Linked DNA regions of Homo sapiens. The protein of the gene in region 1 purifies or fractionates together with the protein of each later gene. This does not show direct contact. Each region holds a gene or a part of one and is shown in the gene's direction. Other genes may lie near its edges. The genes, in order: SMAP1 and B3GALT2.

Region 1 (3,838 bases):
ATTGTAGTTAAAACTGATTAGATGTATAAAAATCCTATGATACAGGTTTTGAAAAGATAAAACCTTTTAAGTAGCCATTGCAAATCCTCTTACAGTCTGTTGTAGTTGTAGAAATGTTCTTTATTCCAAAGGATACCAGTTTCTTGAAGCAGTAGTTGCTATGGAGTGGTGGTCCTCTCATCTCTAACTATTGTTGAGCCCCAGGATTTGATGAGCAAAAACTTGGTGTCACCTTAGGTAGTAAATGCAACTTACTGTGAAAATGCTTCAGTCTACCTACATTAACAGATTCAAATTAAGAAGTACTGTCTTGATTGTAGATGTTTTTATATGGGCTTGGGCTTGTAAGTGATCCTCTTGAATGGCACCATTTTACCTTCTACAATTGTTTGATTCCTATCTAATTTTATAACTTTATTTGGATTTTAAGTAATGGATAAGCTGCGCTTTACTATGCAGAATTTGATAGCTTATTTTGGTGTTTGTCTCAGGGGACACCCTCTGCACCAGCAGCTGCAACCCTGTCTACAGTAACATCTGGGGATCTAGATTTATTCACTGAGCAAACTACAAAATCAGAAGAAGTGGCAAAGAAACAACTTTCCAAAGACTCCATCTTATCTCTGTATGGCACAGGAACCATTCAACAGCAAAGTACTCCTGGTAATGAATTTTGATATCTGCTTTCAGTGACATTACTAGAAGTACATCCTTTGTAATTATATAATAAGATCAATTATATATCTTTTATTGTTCCATGTAGTGAGTGCTTTTGTTGTTGCAGTTTATACAACTATGAAGCCGAAATGAATGAGCATTAGAATTAAAAAATTAAGAGGCATGTACAGGATTCACAGAACTTTATTTGGAATTAACAAGCTGTTCATAGATCACTAAATGTTGTTTCACAAGCTTATAGAACATGGATTATCTTTGATGAATTATTGAAACGATTTGCATGAAGTTTATGACTGCGTACAGTGTATTTTCTCTGCAGGTAAACAGTCTTGAGTTACCACATGGATTAAAAAAAATCTATGAATTTTTTTGTAATCATAACAAAATATTAGCATAAGCCTTATTGTTTACAGAGTTTTAATCTTTCACACCATTTCCTTTAAAATAATGAGCTGCATTTCACATGTGAGCTAAAATTGTTGGGCAGCCCACTACACCTATTGAAGCGAGATATAGTCAGCTCTCACTTCCCTGTTTCGTACTGGGGGACCAGTGGTACAAATCAGCAATAAAACAGTGTATGATGTCATGCTACATAGTTTGGTCTTCACAGTGGAAGATATTTTGTGTGGCTGTTGCATATGATTTACATTTCTTAATTAAATTTACTCAGGTTAATAACTGATTTGTCTGCATCCTAGAAACAACCAGCTCTCAGGGTTTAGGTGTGGGTTGGTCTGAGTAGTAGGAGCAGCCAAACTGGAATTAAAATGTTTGCTGTGAGTAGTTCAGAAAGGCAATTTTTCTGTGATTATAGAGATGAGTGCAACTACACGTGATAGCTCTGTCTTCATTCATTTTCTTTTTGTGGTGCAGGTGTATTTATGGGACCCACAAATATACCATTTACCTCACAAGCACCAGCTGCATTTCAGGGCTTTCCATCGATGGGCGTGCCTGTGCCTGCAGCTCCTGGCCTTATAGGAAATGTGATGGGACAGAGTCCAAGCATGATGGTGGGCATGCCCATGCCCAATGGGTTTATGGGAAATGCACAAACTGGTGTGATGCCACTTCCTCAGAACGTTGTTGGCCCCCAAGGAGGAATGGTGGGACAAATGGGTGCACCCCAGAGTAAGTTTGGCCTGCCGCAAGCTCAGCAGCCCCAGTGGAGCCTCTCACAGGTAGGGGTCATTTACTTTCTAGCTTCTCCCAAATCAAACCAGATTTATTTTCTAAATCTTTTTTTTTTTTTTTTTTTTTTTTTTTTAAGTCTAGTGATCTGGCAGAAAGAATTCAATAGGGATAATATGTTATAGGGTCAAAAGTATCTATAAATATTATGAAGTTGTATCAGATAGACAAATGATGTGTTATTATCGCTATTTTAGAGTATTCTGTAAAAAAAAGGTTAAACATCTTTCATTTCAAATTGTAATGTAACTGTAACGTGAACACCACTAATGGCCAGAAATTATCTCAGGCATCATGAGACTCCCTCTCTGTCACCTCTGAGATTAGCACTAAGCTTTATCCAGCTTGCTGGTGGGACATTTTTACAGTCCACTTAGACAACTTAGCTTCACTAATAATTTTAGGATCTTTTATTAGAAAATAAAAATCTAGCCTCATATTCTCAAAGCACTATTTTATGAGGGATCTAAGGCTATTTTTCAGGTCGGATGATTACTGCCCCATGGCTCTGTAAAAATTCTTTTTGTTGAGAAACCTTTGTAAAGTTGTATTTTCTTTTTACATACCCTATAATGACTTTTATGTTTAAAAAGAGTACAAAAAGATTCAATTCCCATAAGGTGTGAACCAGACATCCCCTCATATTATAAAATCCTATTTCTACCTAAGTTAGAGCTGAGATAGAACATTTCTATTTCAGGTGCTGTGTTCTGACTTTTCTCTAGCTGCACAGACAAAGGCTCTTAGAGAGGTTCATGCTCCCACTCTTCTTCCTTTTACACTTCCCATTGATGTTCCTCCAGCATTTTGGCAATCTTGGTTTCTGTTTGGTCACTTGTTTTACCTTTAGAGCATTCAGGGAATAGTCTAGAGTGATTTCTAACATTAGCACAATCACTATATATCACAGTTAATTTTGCTACCACCATTTACAAGAATATAGGTAAAACATTGGTCTCTACCCGCTGGGAATCTAAAAAATTGTATGTGCTAAGTGTCAGTCACATGGTCAACATGCTGAAGCACACCCAGCTCAGGTTAAGGTGCTAGATGAACCAGGAAGGAGTTAATACTGGCTCTTACTTCCAGATAATGCAGAAGGGTGATGCTGTTCTCCAGCACTCCATCAGTGCAATCTACTGGCCAATGACAAGGTGGTTAAAATGTCCTTTAGTAGGTATGAAGACGTGATCTGCTTCTTCAGACACTTATGCCTGATTAGTGATGTAGTTTATGTTAGTGTCTTTGAAACTGTAAATAAGTCAAGTCAAATGTATTAAATTAAGAACACAGTCTAACTCTGAGTGTAAGTTTTAAACCCACTCACTATATGGTAAATCTTGCCTTTCCTTCTCTTATCACCAATTTTGGAAGTAAGAGAATCACAGGGTTAAGATGCTTATATATATATATATTTGACTCCAGTCTTGAAGAAAAATACATGTAATCTTATGCTTTATTGCATACAATGAAAATAAATTTTAGATGTTTATGTTGTTAGATCAGCGAGAGAAATAAATGCTTTATGACCACTTTAAAAATATTTAGGAAGTATATAAGATTTTAATAGAGAATAATATCTATCATACAAAGTTTATAGGATAATTTTAGACTATTTTACTTCCTAAAATTTTCTTACTCCTTAGTAGTTAAAGCACAATATCCTAGTGTAGGTGAAAGTTAGTTAGAGTAGCGGACTCATTAAAATCCCAAGATTGCTTTGGTATTTTTTTTTAAGTAAGTTGTGGTTAATCTTTGGGGAAACTGTATCTAGAAAGTAGATAAAGAAGGGAACAAAGTAGCTATTTGCTTTAAGAAATATTTGTATGGTACTCTGTTTTTATTCCAGTGCTTGGACTAGTTGTCACATTAATGAAAAAATGACCAACTGTGTGGCTAAAGAAACAAGAATTAAAAGTGAAGTAAGCCTCTTGAACTAAGCCTTTTATATGTTTCACAGATGAAT
Region 2 (3,030 bases), on another chromosome or scaffold:
AATGAAAGTCTAGCACCTGGTATTCAAATCACAAGAATATTTTTGTTGGGCTTAAGTATTAAGCTAAATGGCTACCTTCAACGTGCAATACTGGAAGAAAGCAGACAATATCATGATATAATTCAACAGGAATACTTAGATACGTACTATAATTTGACCATTAAAACACTAATGGGCATGAACTGGGTTGCAACATACTGTCCACATATTCCATATGTTATGAAAACTGACAGTGACATGTTTGTCAACACTGAATATTTAATCAATAAGTTACTGAAGCCAGATCTGCCTCCCAGACATAACTATTTCACTGGTTACCTAATGCGAGGATATGCACCCAATCGAAACAAAGATAGCAAGTGGTACATGCCACCAGACCTCTACCCAAGTGAGCGTTATCCTGTCTTCTGTTCTGGAACTGGTTATGTTTTTTCTGGAGATCTGGCAGAAAAGATTTTTAAAGTTTCTTTAGGTATCCGCCGTTTGCACTTGGAAGATGTATATGTAGGGATCTGTCTTGCCAAGTTGAGAATTGATCCTGTACCCCCTCCCAATGAGTTTGTGTTCAATCACTGGCGAGTCTCTTATTCGAGCTGTAAATACAGCCACCTAATTACCTCTCATCAGTTCCAGCCTAGTGAACTGATAAAATACTGGAACCATTTACAACAAAATAAGCACAATGCCTGTGCCAACGCAGCAAAAGAAAAGGCAGGCAGGTATCGCCACCGTAAACTACATTAGAAAAGACAATTTTTTTTCAAATGTGCAATTTGTAAATATTGCTAAAAGCATGTATAGTTAGAACTGATTACATCCGTAGGACAAGTTTTAGTTAAAACTCATCACATAAAGAAATTCAAGAAGTATTTTTTTAATTTCTGAAGAAGTTAATTCTTAAAACTATAACATTATATAACAAAAAAGGTTTCCCAAAACAATCTATTTAAAAAACTGTATAAGGAGATTCTGTGTATTAACATGCAATAACAAGCATGCATAAATCAATGGTTCAAGTCTTCTGTTAGGGGCCAATAAAATGTATCTGCATATGTTTTCCACATAAATTTTAATTCAAGAAATGACAGTCAAAAGATCCTTCATTTTAGATTAAGCTTTTCATTTTAATATATAATTTAATGTAAATAAAACATCACTATCAATTTTAAGGAAACTTTTTAATTGTGCAAAGGATAAATTTTTTGACCTATTTTAGGGTTCTAAATGCAATAAGATTTAGTTGAGTTATTCCACAAACACATTATAAAGTTCAGATGTTTCATCAATGCAGTTCTCACGAAAGTATTTACTTTTTAAAAATAACTGAGATATTATTTTAAATTTCTTTTATTAATACTTTCTTTTATTAATATATGGGGGAAAATTATTTTGACATGACGTGGTAAAATGTGAAAAACTAATGTGTCTCAGGCTCAAGTTTTTATAGTTATTAAATGTTTCAAAATAGACAAGTTTTGTTTCCTCATTGATGTTAAGAACCAAACTCCTATTTCAATGAGTTATTGGATTAGACCAATTACTGCACTCTTAAACAGCACCACCATTTAATTTCATGTATATCTAACTTCGAATATATCTGTAAAGATAATCGAAGCAAAAGTAATCACTTAAAGGCACAAATAGGATGTACTGTTGAAAAAGATAAAGAGTGCAGGTGCAGTTTCATTCAACACATTTTTAAGATGCATGTCTGCCAAAATGCAACATACGGGAAGTTTATTTCCTGACAGCAGGTGTACACATGCCAACACTTAATCATTTTATGGCACCTATTTCTTTCTTGGAGTGCCAAGTTTGCAAACCTGCAGTTTTTAATTTGGTAGATGACAAATATTCTGAATCACCAATTAAAAACCTTTTTGGGAGGGATGGGGAAAACTACAAACGTTTGACAAACACAATTCTAGGATGAACAATGTATACAATGCACTTTTATGAAGTTTTTAAAAATAAAGGAAAACAAAAAACTTTACTGAGTGTTATAAGTATTTTCACAATAATTTTGTTTGACTCCATCATGAATTTTAAAATCAAGAAATACCAACCTACTAACTAAAATAGTGTTTTTATTCCATACAAGTATGTAAATCTGTCAATCTTAATTTAGTCAGAATGTTTCTTAATTCTAATAACAATCATTTTTACCTCTTATTCTATTATTAAGGGATAAATCACCAGAAGAGAATTGTAACATTTGTGAAACTTGAAAACACTAAAACTGTTTAAGTGCTTATCTCCATTTCAAATCAGTAGCCTAAGTGTTCTACTCTAAATCAAGTGATTCTGAGAGCTGATCTATGTAACACACCCCAGCTCTTGGATCAAGCCTGTCTTTCACTTAATTTATTCTATATGACTACAGAAATACCAGAATTACTTAATAAAAGTCACACATAAGGGGATAATACCAAATCAGATCAGCATGTTTGACAGAAGACAAAAGGAATCCTTCCCTCAGTGTAGAATAATGCTGATTTATGCTTCAAAAGTTTTAAAAACAGTGTGTGTGTGTGCATACACAGGTGTGTACATAGAAAGAGAACTCAAGTTCTATTTGTCCAAATTATGACTATTTTGCAGGATCTTTAAAAGATAGTAATTTCCATCTGGAAAAAGTTTTTTAAAAAATGACTCATGAAAAACAGATAACAGACACCTAAATTCTTCCTATCTCAAGTTTCAATTTAAAATCTATAAAATTTATAAAATCTATGTAAATTTCTATATTCCTAACATTATCTTGAAAAACGATAGTAATCTGATATCAGACACTGTGAGCTCTCAAAGGCGACTGGATCAAACAGTAAAGTGTCTTTGTACTGTTGAAAATCCTTACTTTAAAATAAATATTCTATTAATTTACTTTTGACTTTTCCGCAACAATACTCAAGTCGTTTTCTTAAGCAAAATAAGCTGATAGTGTATATAAACATCTCACCACTTGTTAACTGTGTCTTCTTCATCCCGACACTATGTGATTTTTATATACATAAAAATATAATTTTAAAT

What was found.
Region 2: the proteins of SMAP1 (region 1) and B3GALT2 purify together in Homo sapiens (co-immunoprecipitation; one large-scale study listed by IntAct). This does not show direct contact.

What each region holds. Positions count from the first base shown.
Region 1 is NC_000006.12:70,856,368-70,860,205, forward strand, and holds part of SMAP1 (stromal membrane-associated protein 1), read left to right. Parts: intron 1-311; exon of another isoform or gene 312-491; coding exon 492-663; exon of another isoform or gene 664-1,554; coding exon 1,555-1,862; exon of another isoform or gene 1,863-2,961; coding exon of another isoform or gene 2,962-3,063; exon of another isoform or gene 3,064-3,832; coding exon 3,833-3,838. UniProt on the Homo sapiens protein: GTPase activating protein that acts on ARF6. Plays a role in clathrin-dependent endocytosis. May play a role in erythropoiesis.
Region 2 is NC_000001.11:193,178,008-193,181,037, reverse strand, and holds the end of B3GALT2 (beta-1,3-galactosyltransferase 2), read left to right. Parts: coding exon 1-744; 3' UTR 745-2,308; downstream 2,309-3,030. UniProt on the Homo sapiens protein: Beta-1,3-galactosyltransferase that transfers galactose from UDP-galactose to substrates with a terminal beta-N-acetylglucosamine (beta-GlcNAc) residue. Can also utilize substrates with a terminal galactose residue, albeit with lower efficiency.